Linked DNA regions of Homo sapiens: all the other regions are linked to region 2. The links come from fine-mapping of genetic effects on gene expression. A gene starts in region 2. Each other region holds a variant in brackets. All regions are shown on one strand. Distances are from middle to middle. Region 1 overlaps CAMK1D (calcium/calmodulin dependent protein kinase ID). Region 2 holds the start of CAMK1D (calcium/calmodulin dependent protein kinase ID). Region 3 overlaps CAMK1D (calcium/calmodulin dependent protein kinase ID). Region 4 overlaps CAMK1D (calcium/calmodulin dependent protein kinase ID). Region 5 has its middle 71 kb from the start of CAMK1D. Region 6 overlaps CAMK1D (calcium/calmodulin dependent protein kinase ID).

Region 1 (5,146 bases), 480 kb before region 2:
CCCTCCTTTTAGGAGTCTGTTTGAGCTTTTCTATCTCCACATTTTCAATTCTGAACATCGAAAGACTGGAATATCTTTTGCAAATGTCAGGCACACCTGCAGCCCCAACCGAGGACCAGGTGCCCCTCAAAAGGGTGGTGGATCACATACAGGTATATACATCTTTTTTTTTTTTTTTTTTTTTTAACAAACTGAACAGTGTTTGGTCTGGAATGTGTTTAAGGAAAAGGCAAAGTTCGCAGAGTGTGGGTAGACAGAATAGGGAAGAAGTACAGTTTCAGAAGAACATGCAAAGGTTTCGTGCACTGGCTGAATTCAAGGACCTTCAATTAATTTGCCAGAAGTGATTGTGCAAACCTGGGAAAGAGGACATCTTACTTCTGTTTATGAAAAACGGGAGGAGCTTCCCTTTGCCCGCACTTGCCTTCCTTTCTCATATCCAAAGGAATCCCAGTCGTGTGCTTGTTAAATTCTGCGAAGCAGCGAGGGCTCTGGCTGAAGCTGCGGCAGTGGCCCTACTTCCACCTTCAGCCCTAGAGCAATGGTTCCAGCGTGGCCTCCCCAACGCGAAGACTCAATTCTGGCCAAGGTTCTGGGGGAGAGGGAGAGGTGAGGGGCCACGATGCTTTCAAAAATAAAGTCTACCTGCACTGGGATATCATCTTTCCTTTCTGTTTAAAAATGCTCATAAAATAGCAAGCCCCAGTGGGTTAATCAGGTTAAGCTGTCATTCCACAGGGGAGAGGATCAATCCACTTTCCAAAGGGGATCACCTGGGCTCCCCCCATTCCCCCCACCCCGTGTGCCTGGTGTTCTCGGCTTCTGTCCCTCCCACCTACGATTCATCCAGGGCATGATGGACACTAGGGTAGACAGATGAGTGGGATGAGTACGGGGTAGGTAAACCGAGTCCGGGGCTCCCTAGGCCAGATTCCTTTCATCCTACTACAGATATTTCCTATGAGCCCAGCCTTGGCCAGCATGGCCATCTTTTTTGAGACGGAGTCTTGCTCTGTCACCCAGGCTGGAGTGCAGTGGCACGATCTCGGCTCACTGCAACCTCTGCCTCCCGGGTTCAAGCGATTCTCCTGCCTCAGCCTCCCGAGTAGCTGGGATTACAGGCACGCACCACCATGCCCAGCTAATTTTTGTATTTTTAGTAGAAACAGGGTTTCACCATGTTGGCCAGAATGGTCTTGATCTCTTGACCTTGTGATCTGCCCGCCTCGCTCTCCCAAAGCGCTGGGATTACAGGCGTGAGCCACTGCGCCCTGTCCACTGTCCATCTTCTTTTGCTCGCTCTATCCTGACTGCCGGGGCCCTGGACACTACACAAAGAGCTAGCTGGAGAGTGAGACTCTCTCAAAGGCCAGCGGTGGCTCAGAGACTCTACACCGTTCTCAAGGTCAGATGCTAGAAGTGACCAGAATTGTGGCCATGGTCAAGAACGCAAAGCCACTCTTCCTTTTTTTAACTTTGTATGGCACGCTTTGCCATAGCTCTTTTCTTTTAAAAGAAGACCTGAAGGGGTAGAATGTTTTCTAGTCTCCGACAGAGGCAGGGGTAGGAGGAACTGGTGAAAATCAGCCACTGTGCACTGCCAGAGCCGTGCATGGTCCTGGGGGTTGCCATTTCTCTAACACAGCAAACCCCGTCTCTCCTCAAGGGCTTTGGTGGTCATTGAGCTTCTCCTAGGTGTGCCCTGCGCCTCTGCACCACTTCATTCTGAGGCTCCGGACCCGTGTGCCCGCTGGGAAGCAGAGCCGTAGAGAGGCAGACAGCTGCCCAGACTCCAGACTCCAAGGCCACCTCTGTGAAAAGGGCCAAGCTGCTGGCCTGTTGGTGCCCGCTCACTGTTTGTCTCAATGAATAGAAACTCCTCCTATTGCCTCACGTATGAGATGAAGATCCGGGAAGCCAGGGAGCCCAGACAGGCAGCTGAGGGAAAGGCCACTCCAGGCCACTACTTCAACATTGAATACTCCAAGTGAGGAAAAGAGAATCCACTTGCTCTGAGAAGGGATAGTGACCAAATGGGGGACTTGGGCTCAGGAAGGAAGCCTGTGATGGGGTCTACGCGTCCACCCTTAGCCTCAGCCCAGCACCCTGGGTGCATGTAGAAATGCTCAGCCTCTACAGGTGGACTCTGACCTTGGTGCGGGTCCTAGGACTCTGAGACCCCATTTGTCAGACCTTCACGAAAGGCACATTCTAGGTTCTCTTCCTGTTTTATAAGAAAACAAATCATACCAAGCGCAGTGCAAAGACAACCTCTTTTTAACATGAGAGCTCTCTCAAAAGCACAAGAGCGCCTCTCTTTCTCTGAAGCAATAGGAAATTAACCCAAGCCTGGTGGGATCAGGACAGTACAGGCTTCCTGATGTCATGCTCAACAGTTGACTCTTGGGCTGAAACCAGTCACTGTCTCCTCGCACGATGTTGTTGAGACCCGGCGTGTGACAGGCCAAGCATGGCCAAGAACTGACCCGAACAGCGAGGGGGGCACCTGCACCACGGCTCACCTTTCAGAGGTTCTGCACTTTTTGGGTGAGGGATACTTTCAAACTAAGTGCATATAACATGCACCACATGTATCTGCTCCTGAAAATACTTCAATCACCAGTAATGGAACTCAGC[T/C]TCAAATGCTGCTTTCTGAATGCAAATGGTTGTATATAGCACACAGCACAAAGGGCTATTCATCACTATTCATGTACTCATCCTAGGTACCAGATTCGGGTGCATTTTCAGCGCTTGCAGCCTTCTATTACTTTGTCATGCACTGTATGAACTCGAATGTTTCCAAGACACTTCTTAGTAAGCAACCGCCTAGTTCTCCAATACTGCTTATAATATTCATTCATTGCATGGCCAACTCAGGTGACACTTGCTTCTTAACTGGGTCTAATGTCATCTTATAGACCTTTCCAGGGTTTTTAGATTTTGCAGAGTGACAGCTTGATTTTTCACCCTGTGAGCATGCGTGGCAGATGCCATGCAGAATTCCTGCCAAGCAGTGGAGTGCCTGTGAAGTGTGCGGGGACAGGGTAGACCAGCTGCCTGTCTTCCCAACTGCTCTTCTCTGTGCCTGCACTGCCATTCTCAGGGAGCAGGATGGAGCTGCTGTGCCTAATAACATTGTGTGTGTGTGTGTGTGTGTGTGTGTGTGTGTGTGTGTTTATTGAGAGGGTGGGGGGGCATCACTCAACATTCAGCCTGTACATACTCAAAGGTGTAGAAGTGACAAAGATGACTCAACCAACAGGACTTCCCATGACTGGCCAGCCAGAGGAAGAGGGCATGAGGACACAGCCAGCAGCGTTACTGGGTCGTGATGACGCAGACCTGCCGGGACACCCCCGTGGGCTCGAGGCATTGGATGGGCCTGAGAGCTGAAGCAGGGGCACTTGCAGGAATGGCACTTGAAGCCACCTGCCTGGCTTTACAGGGCAGCCTCCTGGAAGCCTCCATGAAACGCAGCTTTCCCTGGGCCACACACTGCCTGGCTCCACAAAGGCGAACAACACAGCCTGCTTTGCCCCGGATATTCCTGGTTTTGGCATTAAATGTCCACAGCCTGAGAAATCCTTCAGTCTCGGGCAAATGGGACGTTTGGTGACCCTACCACCATGTATCTTTGATTTTAGACTCCCCTGACCAATGGGAGGGCTGCAAGCACTGGCTGGGCCTGGCGGAGGTGGTCTTTGGTCATCTCTGTGGTGGCTGAAGTCCCATTAGCCTGGCAGGGCCCCCTCTCCTTACCACCAGAAATGGATCCTTTCCCAAGGCTGCTTCCCTCCCTTCCTTCCCTTGGAAAACATTCATGTGAGAAGAGGGTAAAAATGTGGAGAAAGAACTTTGTGTTGGAGGCCACGTGAAGTGTAAGATTAGAAATGCATTTTTTTAAAAACCACAGAGAAAGAGATGAATTTTAACACTGCATAGCTGAGCTTTCATCTGTTAGCTCTCGTGAGAAATGAGGGTTGTGTGTGGGCCCACTTTCAGCAACATGGCAGCTGGTTCCTTTTGCAAGGGAGGGTCCTGCATCTCTGCAGTGTGGGCATCTCACTCACAGCAAGTCTGGCCTGTGAAGCTGAGCCCTGCGTCTCGGGGGAGCAGGCTTATTTCTGGTTGCTGATGGCAAGAGGCCTCTAGGGTCTCTGGTGGGTGTGGGTTCTGCTGGATGGGTTGCCAGCAAAGGCTCTGTGCAGATTCTCTACCAAAGTCCCCCGCAGAGAAGAGAGCCTCGCAGAACTGAGGGGCCCCTCCTCCTGGGGAAGGGGAGAGAAACAGAAGGAGTAGAGGTGAAGGGCACTCTTAGCCTTGGAGACAGATTCATGATCCTCTTGTTAGAATTTTTTTTTTTTTTTTTGAGACAGAGTCTTGCTCTGTCACCCAGGCTGGAGTGCAGTGGCACGATCTCAGCTCACTGCAACCTCCGTCTCCCGGGTTCAAGCAATTCTCCTGCCTCAGCCTCCCGAGTAGCCGGGACTACAGGTGTGTGCCACCACGCCCGGCTAATTTTTTGTATTTTTAGTAGACGTGGGGTTTCACCATGTTGGCCAGGATGGCCTTGATCTCCTGACCTTGTGATCCGCCCGACTTGGCCTCCCAACGTGCTGGGATTACAGGCATGAGTCATTGCACCCGGCTGATCCTCTTATTAGAATTTTAAAAAATACCTTTAAATTCTCCTTTGAGGAAAAACAAATCTCTTAAAGGTTAACATAAAACTACTATTAAAGAGGAAAAGATATAGGTCATGTAACTTAGAGATACAAAGGACATACTTCTTAAAAGGAAAAACAAACCCTAATGCACAATATTTACCAATATTTAAATAATCCAGTTGAAACCTTTTTTTTTTTGTCATTAATGAAAAAACACACCATAGACGGTTACCTACACTGAGAAGAGTGGAAACGATGGTGTTAGGGGAGAGGAATAAGAAGGTCCGTTCAGTTAGAGCTTTGCAAGATTCGTATATACAGCACCAGATCCTATGAAATCAGCGCCCCTCGAGTCAGTACAGTTTGTGAGAAATGAACACTTCAGAATTGCAGTAGAAAATATGGCCATAAAAAAACTTCGGTCTTCCAGTCCTATGCAGGAAGGGGCACCATGCAAGGTGGGGTCTCGCTGGAGTGGC
Region 2 (4,000 bases):
CTGCCAGAGAAGCGCTCTGGCACCAGAGGGCAAATCCCCATTTTTCCCCAAGGTGGAAACCACCCACAGTCATCTCCAAACACCATGCTCCAGCAGGAGCCACAGCTTGGAGCCTCAGCAGCCCCGCCACTGCAGAGGTGCAGCTGCACGAGTCAGTCAGGGGACAGGGCATCAGTCACCCGGAGGCTACAGGCAGGAAGCCAGTGTGGGGGGCTCGGGTGGGAACAAGCCACGGACAGGAAAGCATTCACACAGGGTGGGTCCCCATGCTCTCCCATCTCCTCATTGGCGGCCACAGTGCGGGTCCTGGATGACAAGCAAAGGCCATGCTTTCTTGTCTCTCAGTAACTTGAGCATCTCAGAATCACAACCCCAAACCCGAATAAACCTCAGTGGCAATTTTCAAAAGTTTTGACCCAAACTAACCCCTTACCTGGCTGCACTAAGAGGCAACCCCAAACCCCTATTTATTAAAAAGCTACATCTTTTTCTGTTTTCATTCCAACAAAGATAGCAAATAGGTGCCCTCCCTGAAAGGCAACAACCACAGCAGGGAGACCCCACTCTAGTCCTCAGCGTGCGCCTTCCCGGGAATCAGAAGCAGGACTGGGAAAGCCACCCTCACAACTTCTCTCCGGGGGACCCCCTGCAGATCTGCGTGGGGGTGAGGGGAAATGACTGAACAGCAGCAGACGCCGAGCCTGGAGGTGAAGACAAGCTGGGTAATGTGGTGCTGGAAAAAAGAAACCAAGCACAAAAACAAGCACACGGAAAAAAAGGAGGAAGGAAAGAAAGGGCACCCAACAACGCACTGATTTATCCCATGAAATAGCTCCCCTTTCTCTTCCCAGCCTAATCAACACCTCCATGAACCCCTGCAAAATGGGCATTTCTGACTGCACACCTGTGCGTGAATCCACACTGACAGATACTGATGCAGAGCAAATACTGATTGTGTGAGGGAAGGAAATAACTTGAACTTCAGACTCATTCGGCAGGTCCTGATTCTCTTTCACTATCAGCCTCCCCACCTATTCTGAGCCGCTCCGAAACAAAACAAACAAGACCCAACTCCTGGGCAGAAAGGGAACAGCAGCTGAGCTGAGCAGCACATGCTTGGAGCGTTCCTGCCATCGACTTCGGATTATTTCTGCTTTCTTGAGACACAGCCATCAGCATGGGACTCGATGCAGCCCGGAGAGAGCACCGCCCGCGCAGCGACGCGCACAGACCCTCCCTTGGAGACGCGCTCCCCGGCGCGTGCGGCCGAGCCCGCGTGAAATGCACAGACCCTCCGGTGAGGCTCTGCCCACGTGTGACCCTGAGCACTGCGAAGCCCTTCCCTTCCATCCTCGCGTGGCCACCCAAAGTCTTGCCTACACCTCGTACGTGCAGATGCCAATTCCATAGAAATACATGATGTAAGGACAGAAATGGGAACGACTGGAGGCTGATCTTCTCGTGACCACGTCTCGCCAACGCGGTGCGCCCATGCACACGGCGAGTAAACGCACACAGCCGGTAAACAGCCATCCCCACCATGCTCAGCCCACAGTCACGCGTGGGGAGAAGGCAGCGGAGAGGGCGGCGGTGGCAGGAGAAGTGGGAAGTCGCGCGCCCGCGTGGGCTGCTCCCTGACAGCCCGGCGCTGCCCCCTCCCCCTCCCGGGAACGGCGCCCACCCGGGGGTCGCAGGCCCACGCGTCGGGCGCGCTCGGGGGGGCTCCGCAGCGCCGAGAACGGGACAATGAGGACGCGGTGACAGGCTGGGTTTCTGCCGCGGTAGTGGCGGCGGCGGCAGCTGGAGCTGCCCGTGCAGCCCCTGCCGCGGCCACCTCCACCCTCGCCTCCCCGGTCCCCACTTACGTTCCGAGGGTCTCTTTGAACTCGAAGATCTTCTTGATGTCTTCAGCTTGCTTTTTCCAGGAGGAGCTGCTCTCGCCGTTCTCCCGGGCCATGGCCGACGAGCGCGGCGCGGAGGAGCGGCCGGGGGCGCGCTGGGGAGGGGGCGCCGGGGGCGCGGCGCGGGCGCAGAGGCGGCGGGGATGCCGGGCGGCTCGGGCTGCGGCGCAGCTTCCTCCTCTGCAGTTTCCTCTTTCGCTCTCGCCGCCGCCGCCGCGGCCGCGGTCCCTCCCTGGCTCTTATTTCTGCTGTTCTCGGGCACAGACTTCCTGCCGCCGCCGCGCGCCGGCTCCTTTGCCGCCGCCTGCCAGCCTCACTTTCTGCTACTTTCTTGCCTCCCTCCCGCTCCCTCCCTGCCGCCCGCCGCGCTCCCCCCCACCTCGCGCCTCCTCCCCCTCCTCCCCCTCCTCCCCCTCCCGCGGGCTCCCCGCCCTCTCCGTGCGCCCCGGCCGCTCCCCGCCTCCAGCGCGCCGCCTTCGGGGATGTCCCGCTCCCCTCCCAAGAGCGCCGGGCCACGGCCGTCGTGCCCCCTGGAGCCCCGGCGAGGGCGGGTACGGGCCCCCGGCAGGTGCGGGGCGCACGCGGGAGAGCCCCAGCCCCTCCGGGAGCTGGAAACGGAGCCCAGTCTGGGGGCGCCGGGGCTTTCCCGTCTCCGGCGGGAGGGGGCGCCTCTGCGTGGCTCGGAAGCGCCGGGCGGGCGGGGGTGCGCGGCGGCCGGATGCGGGGCGCCGAGGGCGGGGCGCCTTCCCGCGCTGTGGCCTGTGGCCCGGGGGACCCGAGGGGCAAGGCGTGGGGTGGGGGGGGTGGGGGCCGGTTGTTATGGCGACGGGCGGCGGCGGCGGCTGGGATGGAGGCGGAGGCGGGCGGGAGCTCATTCGCATTGCACCAAATCGGTTTCACGTCAGTTTCGGGACAGACCCGCGAGGAGCAAGCCGGGGAGCCTCTGGGCGGGTACGCGCAGGACGCGCCAGCAGCTGCCTCGTGGTCCCTTTGCGAGCAAAACTCCCGGGGGTGTTTGGCAGCCGCGCGGGCGCCCTGGTGCTGGGCTGGAGCGGCCGGCGGGCCTGGCCGGCCTGGTTGCCCTGGCTCACGCTTGGCCCCTTCTGGCATCTCCCTGTCTCCTCCCAGAGACTCAGTGGAAAGAAGTGATCGTCTGCCCCGCAGTCCCCTCGAAGGAGGAGCCCACCCGCGGCTGGCTTAGTAGGGTGTCCGGGTTGCGGGGCAGGCACCTGCTTTCCTATGGACTGCCAAAACTAACCCAGAGAATTCCCTCCGGACTCCCATCTCCCAGCTGTACTTTGGCCTGCCCGCCCCACTCCTGGTGTCCACCTGTCAGAGGGCAGCCCACGTGCTCCAGTTCCCTGGTCCCCAACCTGCAGGGGCGACCTCTTGATCGGAAAATTTTAGATTTCTTGGTATCAACACTTCGCCTCCCTCAGGGCCTCTCCTCGTAGTTGGGTAAACAGCTCTGTCTCTTGACTGGGGACACCTGTCCCATTTTCCCAGGACTGTTCCAATTTCACTGTAAAAGGAAAAAAAAAATCTGCTCCCTGAATAGGAAACTTCATCCAGCACCTTGTGCCTAGTTCTGACTCTGGCTGAAGTGGAGGCAGCCCAGCTGCTCTCCCTCAGCCCCTACTCTGACCCTAAAGAGGTCAGACGACACCCTGGCATCCCCATTCCTGGGACCTCCATGCTAGTTTCCATCTTTCAAAGACGGTTAGCTTAAGGTTTTCCAAACTGAGAAGAGCAAAGAGGGGATTTACTTGCCGGTTAGATGTAGAATAAATCCACAAACCCAATTTCCAACACGGATGGGTGAGAAGAATTACTAAGGAACCTCTCTTATACTTGAGGCACATTACCAAAGTTCAAGGCAAACAGCATCCCCTTCAATAAGAAACATTTGAAAAACTATCATGTATTTTACTTGTGCCAAAGGTTAGATAATACAAACAGTGGGAACCAGGGCATAAGTCAACTAAGATCCCAACTGTCGCTTTCTCATGCCTACAGTCAGCATCTTCTTGTCCTTTCTTTCTCCTTCCCTTCCTCCCACTGTGTTTCCTTCTCCTCTTTTCCTATTTGGTTCTCTGCTA
Region 3 (5,146 bases), 150 kb before region 2:
CAAGCCAGTCATCCCTGCAGTTAATCCTCGCATCAAATGTGTTCATTCATAAAGGGTGGAGTCAGCTGGCTAGGTCTGGCCCAACCTGAATTTTCTGTGATAAGATCTCCACTCACAAACGTCCCGCCCCTCTCCCTGGGAGCCCGCTCTTGCCCACTCCCTTCTCTCTCACAGGCCCCCCTCTCTGCTCTCCCTTCTTCTGGCCTCTTCGCCTCACCTGCTCTCTCCTCCCTTGTTAAAAGTAGCCCAGGCTGCCAGACAGCTGTGACACACGCCAAGAGGGGACCTGCTTCTCAACTGTAAACCTGGTACCCAGGAGTTGTTTTACGTTCACTCATGTCGTTGAACGCATTTAAATACACTACACGCAGCCACCTGGCCACATCAGGCGGGGCGAGGAGCAAATGCTCCTCCCAAAATCCCAGCGGCACAAGTGCACACACACAACACACACAGACTTATACGTCTACCCACATACATATATGCACCCACACGTACATATATACACATATACACACATGCACATGCATATATTCACCTATGTGTGCACATGTATATGTGTACACACGTAGGTACATGCTTGCATACATAAGCACATGTATGCACATATACATACACGTATACACAAGTATACACACATGCACACACACACACATGCATATATACACGCGTGCATGCGAACAGCCTGAAGGGGCAACAGTGCACAACTGATGAAGCCTGTGCCAATGGGGAGAACGTGGAGACGCCACCATTGCGAAGGCAACACTGGACTGGCAAAGGCAGTGAACTGCACCCTGCAGTGAAGATGGGCTCCAAGGAGAAAATGAGCATGGCAAGTAACACACCTTCCAGGGTCGCAGGCACACCATGGGACTCAAGTCCCAGCCAGGCACCGGGTCCTACACACACCTCCTTCCCAGCGCTCTGCCTTCACCCTCTCTCCACGCCCCCACTGCCAGCCCTGGGCAGGCTGACCAGCCTTATACCTGGAACGAGAGTGGCCATGGCTAAAGAGCAAGCATCCTGGTGTCCGAGGGCCCGGGCTAAAGCCTGGCACTGCTACTTCCAGAACAAGGCCTGGGGCAGGTGAAGTGTGTGTGACAGTGTGTGTCCCCTCCTCTGTATGGTGGAGGTAAATGATGGTGTCTGCCTTGCGGGGCTGCTGAGAGGACAGGCTGAGGTTTCCCATGGGATGCTGGTCAGTAGAGGCCAGGTCCTGCGGCCGAGGACCTGCCTTGAACCCAGCGCTGCCCACAAGCCAAGACGCCTCATCGCCCTACACCTGATTTTCTCACTGGTAACCTGAGAAACAGGCCAGGATTGGCAATGCTCCCTCCAGCTTGCACGGTACATCACCGCCTGATTTTCCATTCCCTGGCTGGGTTCTCCTTCCGTTGGACTGGCCTTTCTCTGCCCCATCTTGCCCAGCACCATTGAATACCTTCCTAAAGCTCTGCATCCATCACAGCATCACTCAGCCCACGGTCTGCGATGTCTCTCATTCCTTCGGTCCAGACTGCCTGCTGCTCCCGGCACAGAGCCTCCGCCCTATGACAGGTCCTCCTCACCGTGCCACCAGCTCCACACTCGTTCCTGACCCTGAGCCTGTGCCTGCCCTGGTGGCTGCCTGCCCTGGTGGCTGCCTGCCCTCCCTGCAGCTGCCTCAGTTCTATCCCAGCTCAGCACAGTCCAGGCTTCCCCTACTCTCCCTAGGGCCTGCAGCTCTGAGCACTCCACTCTGCCGCCAGCTCCCCTCCATGGAGGTCACAGCAGCACTGCTCACCAACTGCACACACCACTCCAAAAGCATCAAATGGCTTTTGGGGACCACACCCTTGAGACATACCAGGGTTCTTAACCCAAGCACCCCTGACACTCAGGCTGTATAATACTTTAGGGTGGGGAGGCTGTGCTGTGCATTAAGGGATGTTTAACAGCATCCTCGATCTCCGCCCACAGACACTAGAAGCGGCACACACAACCCCCAAATGTTTCCAGATGTCACCAAATGTCCCCTGGCGGGAAAAAAAATCACTCTCAGTCGAGAACTGCTGGAATATGCGTATCTCCGCAGATAAGCCAGGAATTCCTGGTGAACAGAGTCCACATTCTTCATTTCTTTTTATTTCCTCCGAGCCCCTAGCACAGAGCCGTGCATACAACAGACACTATGTAAATACCTGAAAGGAATGAACACAGGAATGAGCACATGGTGAGGCCCATGACATGGCAATCCGGCAGAACAGCGCTGAGCACACGCACTCACGCCCCAGGTAAGCAGAGGCTTCCACACACCTAAAGTCCCCCTCGCCCCTCACCAGATGATAAACTAGCATCAGAACTTCTCAATCTCTGCAGCTCTTAGTGAGTTTCAGCCAGTGCACAGTGCTCTGAATATACAAGGGCTCAATAAAAATGTGAAGACTAAGTAAATTCTGCCCCCAGGGCACTATTTATAGGAAAAAGAAAAAGAAAACTAAAATAAACAGGAAATTGCTACAACCCACTTAGGCTGGGACTACCAAGTTCCATTTTCCCTGTGTTTTCCATCATTGCTTTGTGAGCAGAATGGAGTGAGTTGAGGGCGAGGTGGAGTACGGGAAAGGGGATGGATTTTGGAGTCCGGTGGACAGGGATCTGGGTGCCAGATATACCCATGATTAGCCCAGAGGTCTTT[G/A]GCACGTTGCCTCTGGAAGCTTCACTTTCCTCATCTGTAAGAGGAAATATAACACCAACCACAGGAGGTGATTGTGAGGCTGCACTGAAGCAATCTATGCGAAAGTGTTCACACAATAGGCAGTTAATAACAGCACAGTTTCCTCTTCTTCATGCTAACAAGAGAATTTGATCATGTCATTTTTAATCAACAAGTAAGAGGTGTACAACATACCTGTGTACTTCACTGCTAAGTCCCTTGCAAAGAATCCACACTTCATGTCTAATAAAAAGGAGGTTGATTCAAGGACAAATTGGCAGAATGCCCAAGCCTCTTTAGCTGGATAATCTTATCTAAACTGAAGCCCAGAAAGGTTCAGCAACTCGTCCAAGGTCACAAGGCAAAGGGTGGGGTCAGGCTTCATAATCTGATCTTTTCTACTGTATACCTCAACTTCTTACTTTTCCAGTAGAATTCTCAATCTCTGGAATGGCATGACACCCAGCCCTGGCAATGGCAGCAAAGGCCCCTCCATGCCCGCAGGGAAAGGTTCCTGGTGCTGGCTCCCTGACACCACCAGAGCAGATTAACCCTGGGCAATGCTATGTCTCACTGACCTCTGGGCTCAGTGAGGTCTAAGAAGAGGTAAGCCAAGCCCTGGACAGGTCCCCAAAGTGACTAATTCTGACCCAGGAGACAAAGAAAGAAGTCAGACAGCGTTTTTTGTGGGTTTTGTTTTTGTTTTTGTTTTGTGTTTTTGAAACAGAGTCTTGCTCTTATTGCCCAGGCTGGAGTACAGTGGCACAATCTCAGCTCACTGCAACCTCCACCTTCCAGGTTCAAGCGATTCTCTTGCCTCAGCCTCCCAAGTAGCTGGGATTACAGGCACCCTCCACTACGCCCAGCTAATTTTTGTATTTTTAGTAGAGACAGGGTTTCAGCATGTTGACCAGGCTGGTCTCGAACTCCTGACCTCAAGTGATCTGCCCACCTCGGCCTCCCAAAGTGCTGGGATTACAGGCATGAGCCACCAAATGTGGTCCAGACAGCTTTCTTCTATACTCCACAGACCCAAAGACTATGCCTTCTTGGAGCATCCTGGTGCTGTCATGGTCCTAAATGATCCGTGGACGGCTCCTCTTCCTGTCATTCCCTCTCCTTGAATAGACCATGGCCAGTGTCAGTCTCCCCCAGAGCTATGGTGAGGTTCCAGAACTCTGCTTGGCAGAGACACCCTGTTATGTAACGGGGCTGCTAACTCCCACCAATCTCTTGTGAAAGACTTTCCTCAAAGCAGCTAAGGGCAGACAACCAACCAATGACCTTGTTCTTCACTGCCTGGTCTGCTCTAAAGTGAAAATCCCTCTCTCTCAAGCACTTGTGTTGAAGAAGAGCAGAAAAATAGCCTTCCTTTGTGTGCTTCCAGCCAAATCCTATCATAAAATCCTGTGTGTGCCACCTCCCAGACACTGAGCCTCCTTGGAAGGGATTCGGATCTGGGGGGAAATCAATCCTAATGCCTCAGGGCCAACCACATCAAAGTGTTTATTTCTGCCTTCGGTTCTGACACATCTTTCTTTTTTCATTTGATTTTTTTTTCAGAAGGAACTGGAAGGTAAGAAAATCATGAAATATGCATGCAGATATGGATTGTGGGCAGCAGAGACAAAGCAGGATTCTTACCAGAATGAGAAAAGAGGGATCTGCTCCTGGCAATGAAATGAGACCCAGGACCGTCCATTTGCATCTTACTAAGGTTACTAAGTGACCTCATCAGTTCAGCCTCTGAGTACTGAGATTGGTAAGAAAAAAACCACATAGGAAAGAACTGCCCAGGAAGCCTTTATTTTCCTGGTCTCATTTCCATTCCTCTTGCTTCTAGCTCATTAATCAGCAAACAGCATATATGATTTTAAAGCACTAAGTTCAATATCGATGCAAAAAAAAAAAAAAAAAGCTGTAATTTACAAGCCAAGAGAGTAGATTTCAGGTATGACCCAGGGGAAGGCATTTGCAATCTACGCCTTGTTTTATCCACTGCTAAAACTGCTACCTAAATTCTATTGTGTAAATGAACAGAAATCCTTAATTAGATGACATTCTATGGAAGAAACAGCTCTATAGACAAAGCAAGGCAATATTATTATTGCTTCTCTTCATTACCTCTTCATCTGCAAAGTACTAAATTGAACCCCCAACAAGTTTGAATGTAAAGAAGTAGGGAGTTCATGGCAACAATGACTGTGATGATGTCTTGGGGCCCCAAGGTCTGAAGATCGGCTACTTTGCCATCCTCTCTCACCTTGGAGGTCTGCTTCCCCGTCACTCCCCACAACCCAACTCCCTCTGGAAGCCAGAGTTTCTTTTCAGTTTCATCTCCACTCTTCAAGCAGCTGTGGCCTAGCCCCTCCCTGATGACATCCAGTGATGAGAACTAACTCAACGCTTCCTGAAGTGTTCCTCCTTTTCTTTAGAATCCAGCCTTTATCC
Region 4 (5,146 bases), 42 kb before region 2:
GCCTGTGGCTCCTAGCACAGACCTCCGAAAGCCCTTGGAATTTGGAGTGATGGGGTGAAAGGAACATCTCTTGTTATTCATCATAAGCCCCTTTCAAGCATACCTAAGTTTATGCCAATGCGGTGACTCTTGGAAAAGGGGGGCTGGTTACCAGGGGAACCAACCAGGTGATGAGAGAGGGTTGGAATTTGCCAGTCCAGAAAGGGGAGAGGCACTGGAGGTTGAGTCAGTCACCAATGACCAGTGATTTACATCAATCATGGAATCTCCATAAAAACCCTAATTGGAGAGGTCTGGGGAGTTTCTGGTTGGTGAACACCTGGATATGAGGGAGGTGGGGCACCCGGAGAGGACGGCACGCTCCCCTGCTACCTCACCCCACCCTACACCTCGCCCCATGCAACTCTTCTATTTGGCTGTTCCTGAGTTGTATTTGTCATAATACAACTGTAAACATAAGTGTCTCCCTAGATTCTGTGAGCCATTATCGCAAACGATCAAACGTGTGTTGGGATGGTGTGAACCCTCAAAGGATGGCCAGTCGGCCAAAAGCACGAGCCGCAACCTAGGACTTGTGACTGGCGTCTGAAGCGGAGGGGGTGTCGGGAGCGGTCTTGTGGAACTGCCCTCAACCTGGGGGGTCTGCAATACCTGCACATAGTCAGTGTCACAGGTGAATTCTAGGACACACAGGTGTCCAAGAACTGGAGAACTGCTTAATGAGAAGGAAAAACCCACACACGTGTGAGGTGTGGAGCGTAAGCTGCCATTTTCCTTCACCTCCCGCCCTTGATGTCAACACTGTCATCTTCAGGGTAGTGTTCTGGCCGGCATGTCTGCTCAGCCACCGTCCCCACCTTCAGAGCAGGACACTTCCCCATGCCTCAAGTTTGGACACATGCTCACGCGTCCATCATGTCTTCCCCCAGGTGGGCTGGGTGTCTCCATCTCTAAACTCACACAGCATTGATTTGGTCTCTGCTTACAGGATACAGGGAGTGTCTCCCAAAGCTGGGCCTGAAGCTCAACTCAGCCACTTAATTCGCTGAATGTCCCTGGGTGAGAAAATTAAAATGTCTGACCCCATCTCACTGAGGTCAGGAGGACAGATGGTGGTAACACACATCTAAAACGCTTGCCGTGTTTTCCATTCTTTTCACCCATAACACTATGAGTTCCTTGAGTGAAATGTTTTTGCCTCTCTCAGAGAGCCTAGCACCATGAGTTGCATTCAGTAGGAGCTAAAAGAAAATGTATTCCTTAAAAAAGGAAGAAAAGGCCAGGCGCAGTGTCTCACGCCTGTAATCTCAGCACTTTGGGAGGCCGAGGCGTGCGGATCACAAGGTCAGGAGATCGAGACCATCCTGACTAACATGGTGAAACCCCATCTCTACTTAAAATACAAAAAATTAGCCAGGCATGGTGGTGGGCGCCTGTAGTCCCAGCTACTTGGGAGGCTGAGGCAGGAGAATGGCGTGAACCCGGGAGGCGGAGCTTGGAGTGAGCAGAGATTGCACCACTGCACTCCAGCCTGGGCAACAGAGCAAAACTGTGTCTCAAAAAAGAAAAAAAAAAAAAAAGTTATGTTTCAGATCCATTCATGACAGTCGATGAGCAGTCAGTTGTAGCTAAGAACCTGGTCCAGATCAGGGTATGTGTGTGTGTGTTGTGTGTGTGTATACTTTCAAAACTAGGAAAATTTGGAAGAAAAATTGAGGCTTACTATGTTTAAACTCATCAAAATTTCTAATGAAGTTGTTTTTTCACTAGAATGTAATATGGTGGTTACCTGGGCCTGGGGGTCAGGGGGTTGGGGAGACTTTTGTCAAAGGATACAAAATTTCAGCTGGGAGGAAAAAGTTCGAGAGATCTATTGTACAACATAGTGACTATGCTCAATAACAATGTATATGCTCTCAAAAATTGCTAAGACAGTAGATTTTAAGCATTCTCACTACAAAACAAGTATGTTAAGTAATACATATATTAACTAGATCAATTTAGTCATTCCACAGTGTATACGTATTTCCAAATAACATATGGTACATGATAATAAATAAAAAGGAAGAAAATTCTGACAAATGCTATAATGTAGATGAACCATAAGGAAATTATGCTGAGTAGAATAAGGTAATCTCAACAGGCTAAGTACTGTATGATGCTACTTATGGGAAGTCCTTAGAGTAGATAAATTCAGGAACAAAGTAGAATGGTAGGTGTCAGGGGCTGGGGGGAGAGGGAAGGAGGAGTTGTGGGGGTTTTGTTATGTTTTTTGTTTTTGATTTTTGATTTTGTTTTGTTTTTTTGAGACAGAGTCTTGCTGTATCACCCAGGCTGGAGTGCAATGGCACCATCTCGGCTCACTGCAGCCTCCACCTCCTGGGTTCCAGTGATTCTCCTGCCTCAGCCTCCCGAGTAGCTGGGATTAAAGGTGCACACCACTGCACCCGGCTAATTTTGTATGTTTAGTAGAAACGGAGTTTCACCATGTTGGTCAGGCTGGTCTCGAACTCCTGACCACAGGTGATCCACCACCTTGGCCTCCCAAAGTGCTAGGATTATAGGTGTGAGCCACCATACCCAGACTGTTTGTGTGTGTGTGTGTGTGTGTGTGTGTGTGTGTGTGTGTGTTTTAAGACAAGTCTCGCTCTGCTATCCAGGCTGGAGTGCAGTGGTGCAATTACCATTTATCTGATTTTCAAATCATTTCACCATTTTCAGTTATATGAGCTGTTAATGACAGTAACTATCCCATAAATTTAGTATAGATACCCCAGATTGTTCTGAGGGAGAAACTCTATTTTGAGTCCTGGATGATTCGGTTCTAGTCTTCCTAATTTCCTTATGCTTGCCATTACAGTGCACTGTATATGGCACTGTGAGGAAGATAGAATTCTTATTCTCAAATTCACCTGCTGGTACTGTAAGGACATTTTAACAGACCTCCTAAATTTAACCGACTAGGGTGTTTTGTTTTTCTTTAAGAAACATTTGAAAATCATCCTCCCGAAAGGGAATATTTTATTCATGCCAGTTTAAGTAGTGACAGGAAAATATTCAGTACTTAAAATGGAATTTTTTT[T/A]AAAAAAAACGGTCAGCATGAATTTCCACAGGCATCTGGAAAATTGGCAAAAGAATTAAGAATGTGAAAAGCAACCGGTGATCCCAGCTGGGGTGAAACTGCCTTCCTGTGGAAACCCTGAATAGAAGATAAGCTTCTAAGATTGATTGCTTGATGTATTTTCTTCACGTGTCATACCGACCTAAGACTGCTTTAGGAATTCCCACAGACAATCCCCTGGAAAGTTAATTTACATAGTGATTCCAATTTAATCAGAGAAAAAAAAGCGCACACCTACAGCTTGTTCCCAGGGCCCCACACGAGCTTGAAGTTAAAGTATTTTATTTTGTATTGAGAATAACAAGAATCCAGGCAAAGATCTTAAAAGTTCAATCTTTCCCCTCTACCCTTCATGGCCAAAAGACTGAGATACCAACGTATCATGGCCTGAGAAAGGGTTTTCCTCATTCACGAGAGAAGACAGTGTTGGCCCAACACTGAGCTCTGGAGTTTTTGCCAGAACTGAGCTTGGACCCCTTCCCACCTCCTACTCACTCAATGCTGGACTCTGAGCACATTAGTTGACCCCACACAGAATCTCATCAAGTTGATTCATAAAGTCAGGACTATGCACAGCATCCTCTTATTCACGCACGCTTGAGCCTGAGTTCATTCTGAATCTAGTGGGCCAGAAGGATGGCTCCGTGGGGACAGCTGGACCCGTATTCCAGGCTTGGATAGGTGACTCGCTCACTAGCTGTGTGATCTCAGGCAAGTCCCTCAACCCTTCTGGGCTCCCCTTTCCTCTTGGGTCCTTTACACGTTCGACTAGAAGCTTCTGCTCCCACGTGACATGACCCAAGGGGGAACACACAGACTGGAAACAGGCAGGCTGCACAAGTCCCGGAGCTCATGGTTAGCCCTGGCCCTGCACTCTTACCTGGGTTTTGCCTGGGCACAATGGACCCTATTCTACCCTCAACTAGTTGTAGGATCTTGAATAATGGGGCTTAACTTTCTGTGCCTGATGATAAAGACAGTTTAGAGACAGACGCAGAGACAGATATAGTGACAGAGATAAAGACAGAGACAGAGCTAGAGATACAATGTCTCTTCTAGCTCTAGAATTCTACTTATATGAGAAATTCCTTCCATTCTGAATAAAACAGAAACTAAGGTTGAGCAAAGTGGCTCGTTCCTATAATCCCAGCAATTAGGAAGCTGAGACAGGAGGATCACTTGAGGCCAGGAGTTTGAGACCAGTCTAGGCAATGGAGCAAGACCCCATCTTTTTTTTTAATTTTTAAAAAATAGAGACAACTACTTTATAGTTCTTCGGCCACTGGTGCAAATCACTAGCAAATGCAGTATGAAAATTTTGCATCAGCCTAGAATAAGGACACCGTGCAGTACAAGCGCTTTATAAAAGGTAAAAATATGGGAGACACAGGACTATTCATTCCTCCAGAACAGTTTATTGGTCATGCACATGTCCTCAAATTAAATTCCCCCCAAGATCACCAGCCACCTCCAAAAGTTAAACTCACCTTGCCCCATGGGGCAGGACCTCCCATGCACAGCACAAAGATGACCCACAGGAAAAATAGCCTTCTCTTTGAGGCTCAAGGAGATGTTCTACTACAAGTGCCTATGATGAATTCATCCCTTCCACTGACCTAAATGCAGACAGAAGGCATCAAAAAAAAAAAATCAAATGACAATCCAAAGCCACAGATTTTGTGACCATTTTGCTCTCAATCCTATTCCCCAAAAAGGAAGCACCTTCAGACAGTAGGTGACAAGGACACTGTGTCCAGAGAGGGCGTTTTCATCTAACTACAACTTTCAAACTCACGGCCATTAACATTCACCCAAAATAACTGGACGGTCGCCAACCAGGAAAGGGCACGTTACTAAAACCGGCCCTCCAGCCTCCGAGAGGCTCAGCAGAATTCTGCTTGCTGTGAGTAGGGAAGGAAGCAAGGTCTGTTTATTCTGCCAACGTGCAGAGAGGCACAGTAACTAGGTCACGTTCTCACTCAGGCCTGGATGAAACCACCTGGATGCTCCAAGCCCTCGACCCTG
Region 5 (4,803 bases), 71 kb after region 2:
TGTGGTGGTACACACCTGTAATCCCAGCTACTCGGGAGGCTGAGGCAGGAGAATCACTTGAACCTGGGAAGCAGAGGATGCATGAGCCAAGATGGTGCCACTGCACTCCAGACTGGGTGACAGAGCAAGACTCTGTCTCTAAAAAAAAAAAAAAAAAAAAAAAAAAAGTTGATATATTAGAATACTATTTAGCAATAAAAAAGAAAAACATGCAATAACATGCATAAATCTCAAAATTATTATGTTGAGAAAAGATGCCAGACACAAAAAAGTAAATACTAAATGATTGTACATCTGTAATATTCTAAAACAGGCAAAACTAAAATATTGTGATAGAATTCAGAACAGTGGTTGCCTCTGCTGGGAAAAATTCACTAGAAATGGGTATGAAGAAACTTTCTGGGTTGATGGGAATGTTCTTTATCTGGACTGGGCAGCTGATTACACAGGTGTACACAGACGTCAAAACTCATCCAACTGTACACTTGACATCCGTGCATTTTATTGTACAAAAATTATACCTCTTTTTTTTAAGTACTGGAAAAGAGTACAAAGAAAGAATTGCCTATGTCTTTTCTTTTTTTCTTTTTTCTTTTTTTTGAGATGGAGTCTCGCTCTGTCGCCCAGGCTGGAGTGCAGTGGTGCCATCAGAGCTCGCTGCAGGCTCCGCCTCCTGGGTTCATGCCATTCTCCTGCCTCAGCCTCCTGAGTAGCTGGGACTACAGGTGCCCGCCACCACGCCCAGCTAATTTTTTGTATTTTTAGTAGAGACAGGGTTTCACCATGTTAGCCAGGATGGTCTCAAACTCTTGACCTCATGATCCGCCCACCTTGGCCTCCCAAAGTGCTGGGATTACAGGTGTGAGCCACCGCGCCCAGCCTGCCTATGTCGTTTCTTCACTCCTAGGCTTAGTGTTGCGCTCAATTTAACCAAGCCCTTCAACCAGCTAGAAGGCCAGCTTTGTATGTATTTTGCAAGAAGCTCCTCATTAAGCTGTGAGTCCTGTCTTGGGGAGATTTATAGGAAGGTGGATGTTGACAAAAGGCCTGAACTCTTCCAATACTTCAATTAAGATGCATTCTAGGCCAGGTGCTATGGCTCACCACTGTAATCCCAGCACTTTGGGAGGCCAAGGCAGGCAGATCACGAGGTCAGGAGATCGAGACCAGGCTGGCCAACATGGTGAAACCCGGTCTCTACTAAAAACACAAAAATTAGCTGGACATTGTGGCAGGTGCCTGTACTCCAGCTACGTGGGAGGCTGAGGCAGGAGAACCACTTGAAACTGGAAGGTGGAGGTTACAGTGAGCCGAGATCACGCCACTGCATTCCAGCCTGGGCAACAAGAGTGAAACTCCGTCTCAGAAAAAAAAAAAAAAAAAATGCATTTGAGAAATATCCACTAAAGAAGAGAAAGGCCAATAGCGAGTCAAGAGAGAGCAAGAGCTGTTTTGTTGGTGTAACTGGGATGGAATCCACACTAGAGCCGGTGGAGGCGTGAGTGGGTGGTGGGGAGATGATGAAAGGCTGGATAGTGTGAGACACGGATTGTGCTGGTTACGAAACAGCCTTAAGTATGTTCGGCATAGACGCAACAGCAAACATCAATATACACTTATAGCAGTATTTTTTAACCAACTAGAAAGAGTAGGGGGACACAGAGGCAGGAAAAAAAATAAAATAAAAAATTAGGGCCGGTAATTACAGGCTCACACCTGTAATCCCAGCACTTTGGAAGGCCAAGGCAGACAGATCGTTTGAGGCCAGGAATTCCAGACCAGCCTGGGTAACATGCCAAAACCCCATCTCTACACAAAACAGAAAAATCAGCTGGGTGTGGCGGTGCACACCTGTAGTTCCAGCTACTCAGGAGGCTGAGGTGGGAGGATCACTTGAGCCTGGGAGGTTGAGGCTACGGTGAGCTACGATTGCAGCAGTGGCTCACGTCTGTAATCCCAGCATTCTTGGAGGCCGAGGCGGGCAGATCACTTGAGGTCAGGAGTTCAAGATCAGCCTGGCCAAATGGCGAAACCCCATCTCTACTAAAAAATACAAAAATTAGCCAGGTGTGGTGGCGCATGCCTGTAATCCCAGCTACTCAGAAGGCTGAGGAAGGAGAATCGCTTGAACTCAGGAGGCGGAGGTTGCAGTGAGCCAAGATCATGCCACTGCACTCCAGCCTGGGCAACAGAGTGAGACTCCATCTCAAAAAAAAAAGAAAAAAGAAAAAAAAGAAAAAAGTGGTGTATCTGACTATATGAACTTTTAAAAATGTCAAAAATAAAAAATCAAACTATTAAAATGCAAACTGACCAGGAAAAATATTTGTACCAAATCTGACCACAGCATTAATATCTTCATTACATGAGAAAAATCCTTATTAATTGGTTTTTTAAAACTGTCTCCAGGCCGGTCATGGTGGCTCATGCCTGTAATCCTATCACTTTGGGAGTCCGAGGTGGGCCAATCACCTGAGGTCAAAAGTTTGAGACCAGCCTGGCCAACATGGTGAAAACCCATCTCTACTAAAAGTACAAAAATTAGTTGGGCGT[G/A]GTGGCACACACCTGTAATCCCAGCTACTCAGGAGGCTGACGCAGGAGAATTGCTTGAACCTGGGAGGCAGAGATTGCAGTGAGCCAAGATCGCACCATTGCACTCCAGCCTGGATGCCAAGAGCGAAACTCTATCTCCAGTGGGCCAGGCACGGTGGCTCCCACCTGTAATCCCAGCACTTTTGGAGGCCAAGGTGGGTGGATCATTTGAGGCCAGGAGTTCAAGATCAGCATGGCCAACATGGTAAAACCCTGTCTCTACTAAAAATACAAAAAAATGAGCTCGGCGTGGTGGCATGCGCCTATAATCCCAGCTACTTGGGAAACTGACACACGAGAATCATTTGAATGCAGGAAGTGGAGGTTGCAGTGAGCTGTGATCGCGCCACTGCACTCCAGCCTGGGCAACAGAGTGAGACTGTCTCAAAAAAAAAAAAAAAGCAAATTTAGCTGGGCCTGATGGCGTATGCCTCTGGTCCTAGCTACTGGGAAGGCTGCAGTGGAAGGATCCACTGAGCCTGGGAGGTTAAGGCTGCAGTAGACATGATTGCACCACTGCACCCCAGCCTGAGCTACAGCCCAAGACCCTGTCTCAAAAAAAAAAAAAAGAAAAAGAAAAAACAAGGCTCTAATGAAAAAATGGGAAAAGGACATAAAGCTATCATTCAAAGAACTATAACCAGTAAACAAATACATAAAATAAGGCTCAGTTTTTCTTTTTTCTTTTTCTTTTTTTTTTTTTTTTTTGAGCCAGAGTCTCACTCTGTCGCCTAGGCTAGAGTACAGTGGCACAATCTCAGCTCACTGCAACCTCTGCCTCCCGGGTTCAAGCGATTCTCCTGCCTCAGCCTCCCGAGTAGCTGGGATTACAGGCACCCGCCACCATACACGGCTAATTTTTGTATTTTTAGTAGAGATGGGGTTTCACCATATTGGCCAGGCTGCTCTCGAACTCCTGACCTTGTGATCTGCCCACCTCAGCCTCCCAAAGTGCTAGGATTACAGGCGTGAGTAACCGTACCTAGTCAAGGCTCAATTTTTCTAATCAAAAAAGAAGTTAAAATATTAAATTTTCATTTTGCTACTAAATCAGCCAAACAAAATTTTAAATTAATATAACTATTACAGCTGGGCGTGGTGGCTCACGCCTGTAATCCCAGCGCTTTGGGAGGCCAAGGCAGGCAGATCACGAGGTCAGGAGATCAAGACCATCCTGGCTAACACGGTGAAACCCTGTCTCTACTAAAAATACAAAAAATTAGCTAGGCGTGGTGGTAGGTGCCTGTAGTCCCAGCTACTTGGGAAGCTGAGGCAGGAGAATGGCGTGAACCCGGGAGATGGAGCTTGCAGTGACCCAAAATCGCACTACTGCACTCCAGCCTGGGTGACAGGGTGAGACTCCGTCTCAAAAAAAAAAAAAAAAAAAGAGTTCGAGACCAGCCTGGCCAACATGGTGAAACCCTGTCTTTACTAAAAATACAAAATTAGCTGGGCATGGCGGCGTGTGCCTGTAGTCCCAGCTACCCAGGAGGCTGAGGCAGGAGAATCACTGGAACCCAGGAGGCGGAGTTTGCAGTAAGTTGAGATTACGCAACTGCACTACAGCCTGGGTGACAGAGTGAGAGTCCATCTCAAAAAAAAAAAAAAAACTACATATATATATCTATATACACACACACACATATATATATAAAACTGGCAAGGAAGGACCTTATAGATGGAGAGCATATAAATGGAGAATATAATTTACATATTGTAAATCGGCATAATTCTTTTCAAAGTTATTTTGGCACAAGACCTCAACAGTCATCAAAATGTTCACACTCTTGAACCCACTTGTTTACAGAGTCAACAACATTACAATGCAGACAGCCTATGCGTAACAATGCGATGTTTCTTGTAGGGTTCATTATAATAAAAACAACAACAAAAAGGCAGTAATTTAAAGGTCTAAACAGACAGAGGCTGATTAGGCAGCTTGGTTACGAGTTTAGAACCGGGAATCAAACATGGTGAGAAGCCCAGCCCTGGCACTAACAGGCTGTGTTACCAATGGCTCTCGGAAATTCCTCATCTGAAAAAACGATCATGCTATCACCTGCATCCTAAAGTTGTGAGGATTAGATGAGCTAATGCATGGGCTCACACGGCATTCAACATAGCATACAACGAACATAGTACATGTCAGACTTTTTTTGTTTTTGAGACAGAGTTTTGCTCTTGTTGCCCAGGCTGGAGTGCAATGGCACG
Region 6 (5,146 bases), 32 kb before region 2:
GAAAATAAACCATAAATGTGAGAGTTTATTTCTGGACTCTCAATTCTAGTCCACTGATCTATACACCAGGACCACACTGTCTTGATTACTGTAGCTCTGTAGTAAGTTTTTAAAGTCATCCAACTTTGCTCTTCTTTTTCAAGACTGTTTTGGCTATTTTGGGTTCCCTGCATTTCCATATGAATTTTAGGATCACCATCTCAGTTTCTGCAGAAAGGGCAAGCTGGGATTTTGAAAGGTATTGTGTTTAATCTATAGATTAATTTGGGGAGTTTTGCTATCTCCACAACATTAAGTCTTCCAATCCATAGACACAGGACGTCTTTCCATTTATTTAAGTCTTCATTAATTTCTTTCAATGATGTTTTGTAGTTTGCAATGTGCAAGGCTTGAACTTCTTCAGTCAAATTTACTCCTAAATATCTTATTCTTATTGATGATATTATAAACGAGATTGTTCTCTTAATTTCTTTTTTTATTTTTCCTTGCTAGCATATACACATATAATTCATTTTTGTATACTGATCTTGGATCTTGCAGTCTTGATGAACTCATTTATTAAATGGAATAGTTATCTAGGTGATTCCTTAGGATTTTCTCTCTACAGGATCATCTCATCTGCAAATAGAGATCGTTTTACTTCTTCCTTTACAATCTGGATACCTTTTATTTCATTTTCTAACTACGCTGGCTAGAACCTCCACTACAAAGTTGAATGGGGGTGGTGAGAGCAGACACTCTTGTGTCGCTCCTGAGGCTAGTTAAGGTAAAGCGTTCATTCTTTCTCCATTAAGTGTGATTTTAGCTCTGTGAGTAGACTTTTTAAAACTATTTGTGTAAAAGGTTATTTTGCTGTTATGTCCATTCATAAAAGGACCTAAGTATGCTTATTTCCCAATACACAACTTCCTTAATATTTAGTTATCTTACAGATTTTCAATATTCTTTATGCTTGTACTAGGTAAGAAAGAGAAAATAACAAGCTCGAGTAATTCTGAAGTTCAAGAAGATTTGAAATGGGCGTATTTAATAAAACCCAATGTCTGTGGTGAAATAAACACCTGCTAATATAAAGTCCAAGCAATGGACATTCATGTCAATTTGACATTTCCCCGAGTTGCAAGTCACTCAATTTACTGCTGAAAAGAAAGGCTTTATTCTGAGCATGTTCTGAAATTCTGTACCAATTTTCCTGCTTCGACATTCCCTGAGTTCTTATTCTGTTGCTCACCAAAGTTAGTTCCACCACAAAAAGCTCTTTACAGTAACAACAACAAAAAAAAAAATTGGAAAGATCTATTCTAATTTTATTTAAATCTATAAATCCTAAAACAAAGAGGGATTTGACACTTAGCTAATTTAATTATTTAGTACCAAATACTTCAGATAAAAAAACTACACCCGGAAACCTGGATTATGTGGTTTGATGCTCTAAACAAATTATATTAGAGCAACAGCTTGGTTAGCTAGAATACATAGAGAGAAGTGCAGGGGAAATGTGTGCACTTTGGAAGAACTGGCTTCAAATCCCAGATCTGTCCATTACTAGCTGTGCTTCCTCAGACAAGTTATTTCTCTTCCATGTGCCAACTACAAAAAAAAAAAAAAATTGCTACTTGCAGGGATGTTGTACAGATTAAACGACACATTTAATCAAAGTGCTAGGAAGGAACACAGAAAGTGCTATTATTACTTGAAGTCATGTTTGTTTGTTTGTTTGTTTGAGATGAAGTCTCACTCTGTTGCCCAGGCTGGAGTGCAGTGGCGCGATCTCAGCTCACTGCAACCTCCGCCTCCCGAGTTCAAAAGATTCTCCTGCCTCAGTCTCCCGAGTAGCTCAGATTACAGAGGTCCGCCACCACGCCCAGCTAATTTTTGTATTTTTAGTAGAGATGGGATTTTACCATGCTGCCCAGACTGGTCTGGAACTCCTGACCTCAGGTGATCCGCCCACCTCAGCCTGCCAAAGTGCTGAGATTACAGGTGTGAGCCACCATGCCCATCCTGGTTTTTAAACTTTTATAGCTAAAATCTTTCTAAACAGTATTAGCATTTTTATGTCTGGGTATGATAATAAACAGACTATAGCACCTTTATTTCTGAGTATTTCATATGAAAGATCCTATGTAAGTTACCAAAACATGCGTCAGGCTCACCCACAAGTACCTTATCATCTAGTATAAACAAGTGTGATGCATACCATAAGGATTTCACATACATTATCATTACAAGATATGACACAGATAAAAGGTGTCCATGGGGCTGACTATATAGTGAGAGGCTGGGCACACATTCTACAACATGGTTTTCATTAATATATTCCAAATATTAGCTCAGACAACTGTTGTTCAACTGTTCTCCCTAAAAGGTGGTACAGCAAGTCCCCACTTAATGTCCAGTCAGTTCTTGGAAATTGACTTTAAGCAAAATGACATACTTGAATATCATCATTTTGTTCAATATCATTTCATTACAACACTGATAAAAAAATGAAAAATTGTGGTTTTGTTACGTCATTTCACTCAAAGTCACAGTTTCCAAGGAAAATGGACTGGTGTGGAAAAACCCACACAATGAGTGTCAGAAGTGTCGTGAGTATATAGCAAAACAGTTTTTTTTTCTTTTAAAACGTTTTACTCTTGCTTTATAGTACCAAGTCACCTAAAACGCCAGGTCTCTGCTATGAAAACTCATCAGGCAACAGCACAGTCGAACTCATCATTTCTACCAATTAAACATGCCCCTGGTACCAGCTAATTGGCACATCTGGGATCATCCAATTAGCAAGACAATGAACACTGA[C/A]CAGACTCCGAACATGAACGCGGACTGCTTCTGTATGCCACGCCACAACCGTCAGAGAACTCAGACTGTATCGTCAATTCTCAGCAGCTTGCACTGTCTTCTTTAAAAAACTTGAGAATTGGCTGGGTGCAGTGGCTCAAACCTGTAATCCCAGCACTTTGGGAGGCCAAGGCAGGCGGATCACCTGAGGTCAGACCAGCCTGGCCAACAAGGTGAAACCCGTCTCTACTAAAAATACAAAAATTAGCCAGGTGCAGTGGCATGCGCCTGTAATCCCAGCTACTCAGGAGGCTGAGGCAGGAGAATTGCTTGAACCTGGGAGGCAGAGGTTGGAGTGAACCAAGATCGTGCACTCCAGCCTGAGTGACAGAAGGAGAATCCGTCTCAAAAAAAAAAAAAAAAAGAAAGCATTATGATTTTCTAGTCCTTCCGACATTTTTTAAGAACCACTACCCAAGATTTCTCCTTGCAGGATTCAGAAGCAATCACCCAAGTCAAGCTGTGACCACCCCAGGAAGGGAACGGCATTCATTCTACAACTTTATAAGGGGCGGGGCCCGCTGTCACTGCTCAATGTATGTACAAAGCTGACCTCCTTTTGCTATTATTTTCAAGACATGACCAGTTCTTTTCATTCCTACTTCCTTTTTTATTTCCAATAAAGGGAAAAGGCAGGCTTTCACCTAAATCAAAATGGAAGAGTCATAAAAATGTACAAGCTACTTCACACAGGCATATACTTTTCATTGATTTCATCTCAACCTCAAACCATTCATTTTAACTCAAAAACAACCTGACAAATGACTAGGCCAATTATATCATTACTAAATGTGTGAGCCTTCAATTAACTGAGAAATGCGTGGGGTTTGTTTTTTTGTTTGTTTGTTTTTGAGACAGAGTCTTGCTCTGTTGCCCAGGCTGAAGTGCAGTGGTGCAATCTCAGCTCACTGCAATCTCCGCCTCATGGGTTCAAGCGATTCTCCTGCCTCAGCCTGATGAGTAGCTGGGACTACAGGCACGTGACCCCATGCCTGGCTAATTTTTTGTGTTTTTAGTAGAGATGGGGTTTCACCGTGTTAGCCAGGATGGTCTCGATCTCTGACCTCGTGATCCGCCCGCCTTGGCCTCCCAAAGTGCTGGGATTACAGGCATGAGCCACTGCGCCCAGCTGAGAAATGGTCTTAAACATATATTGACTTGGGTGGCATCATGATAAGAAAAATCCTTCCCTTTTTTCCGGGCAATAATCACATGAAAAACTGAAGTGCAATTATGTTATCAGCTTCATAAAAGGAAGGATTTGTTTGGCCTCCTTTGGGTTGTCAAACTCAATAATCATTACAAAACCTAGGCTCCAAGTGTGACGAATTCCTTGTAGCCTTAAAAACCTTTACTCTCATATTTATAATCATTGATCCTTTTAATTGGAAGGTGAGACAGTATCATAATAATTGCTCTGCTAGATTCAGAACTAAGGAAAAAGGGTTTCACCTGATGTTCAATCAATCAGCGATGCCTCTTCTTTTTTTTTGAGATAGAGTCTCGCTCTGTCACCCAGGCTGGAGTGCAGTGGTGCCATCTTGGCTCACTGCAAGCTCCACCTCCCAGGTTCACACCATTCTCTTGCCTCAGCCTCCCGAGTAGCAGGGACTACAGTCACCCGCCACCACGCCCGGCTAATTTTTTTGCATTTTTAGTAGAGACGGGGTTTCACCGTGTTAGGCAGGATGGTCTCGATCTCCTGACCTCATGATCCGCCCGCCTCGGCCTCCCAAAGTGCTGGTATTACAGGCGTGAGCCACCGCGCCCGGCCAACAACACCCTTTTTTTTAAAAGTCCTCCCAAAAGATTTATACTGATCCATCCACTTTCTGGCACATTTTTGAAAGATATTTAGCCAGGAGTAGAGTCGTATCTGGCCATGAATCTGAATGGTAAAAACTGGCCTCAAATTAAGTTATTTTATTTTCTTTCATTGATTAATTGATTGATTGAGACAAGGTTTCGCTTTGCCGCCCAGACTGCAGTGCAGTGGCACGATCTCGGCTCACTGCAACCTCCGCCTCCAGGGTTCAAGCAATTCTCCTACCTCAGCCTCCCGAGTAGCTGGGATTACAGATGTGCACCACCATGCCCGGCTAATTTTTGTATTTTTAGTAGAGACAGGGTTTCACCATGTTGGCCAGGCTTGTCTGGAACTCCTGACCTCAGTTGATCCACTGGCCTCAGCATCCCAAAGTGCTGGGATTACAGGCGTTAGCCACCAAGACTGGCCCCAAATTAAGGGATTTTAGCTAACATTTTTGAGCACTTAAACACCAGGCATTAAACAAACAAGAAACTC

The links. PIP is the estimated chance that this variant, and not a neighbour inherited with it, causes the effect. A credible set is the group of variants that fine-mapping cannot tell apart.
Region 1: its variant is the best candidate, but not a certain one, in a credible set for the expression of CAMK1D in blood mononuclear cells (TOPMed, PIP 0.69).
Region 3: its variant is the best candidate, but not a certain one, in a credible set for the expression of CAMK1D in whole blood (TOPMed, PIP 0.88).
Region 4: its variant is the best candidate, but not a certain one, in a credible set for the expression of CAMK1D in whole blood (TOPMed, PIP 0.62).
Region 5: its variant is the best candidate, but not a certain one, in a credible set for the expression of CAMK1D in whole blood (TOPMed, PIP 0.72).
Region 6: its variant is the best candidate, but not a certain one, in a credible set for the expression of CAMK1D in whole blood (TOPMed, PIP 0.88).

The regions. Positions count from the first base shown.
Region 1 is chr10:12,828,956-12,834,101 of GRCh38, reverse strand. It overlaps CAMK1D (calcium/calmodulin dependent protein kinase ID), which reads right to left. Exons shown (of 11, transcript NM_153498.4): 11 at 1-5,146. Among named protein-coding and RNA genes, the nearest start is that of MIR548Q, 110 kb to the right of the region's middle. The variant T/C (reference allele first, on the strand shown) is at 2,638.
Region 2 is chr10:12,347,776-12,351,775 of GRCh38, reverse strand. CAMK1D (calcium/calmodulin dependent protein kinase ID) reads right to left here and starts at 2,229. Exons shown (of 11, transcript NM_153498.4): 1 at 1,866-2,229. The coding sequence starts at 1,957. RefSeq lists enhancers at 1,081-1,240, 1,415-1,914 and silencers at 1,951-2,040, 2,211-2,770, 2,811-3,070.
Region 3 is chr10:12,498,536-12,503,681 of GRCh38, reverse strand. All of the region lies in intron 1 of CAMK1D (calcium/calmodulin dependent protein kinase ID), which reads right to left. Among named protein-coding and RNA genes, the nearest start is that of MIR4480, 78 kb to the left of the region's middle. The variant G/A (reference allele first, on the strand shown) is at 2,678.
Region 4 is chr10:12,389,462-12,394,607 of GRCh38, reverse strand. All of the region lies in intron 1 of CAMK1D (calcium/calmodulin dependent protein kinase ID), which reads right to left. Among named protein-coding and RNA genes, the nearest start is that of CAMK1D, 42 kb to the right of the region's middle. The variant T/A (reference allele first, on the strand shown) is at 3,083.
Region 5 is chr10:12,276,184-12,280,986 of GRCh38, reverse strand. No RefSeq gene overlaps it. Among named protein-coding and RNA genes, the nearest start is that of CAMK1D, 71 kb to the left of the region's middle. The variant G/A (reference allele first, on the strand shown) is at 2,554.
Region 6 is chr10:12,379,402-12,384,547 of GRCh38, reverse strand. The region is part of intron 1 of CAMK1D (calcium/calmodulin dependent protein kinase ID); the gene reads right to left. Among named protein-coding and RNA genes, the nearest start is that of CAMK1D, 32 kb to the right of the region's middle. The variant C/A (reference allele first, on the strand shown) is at 2,803.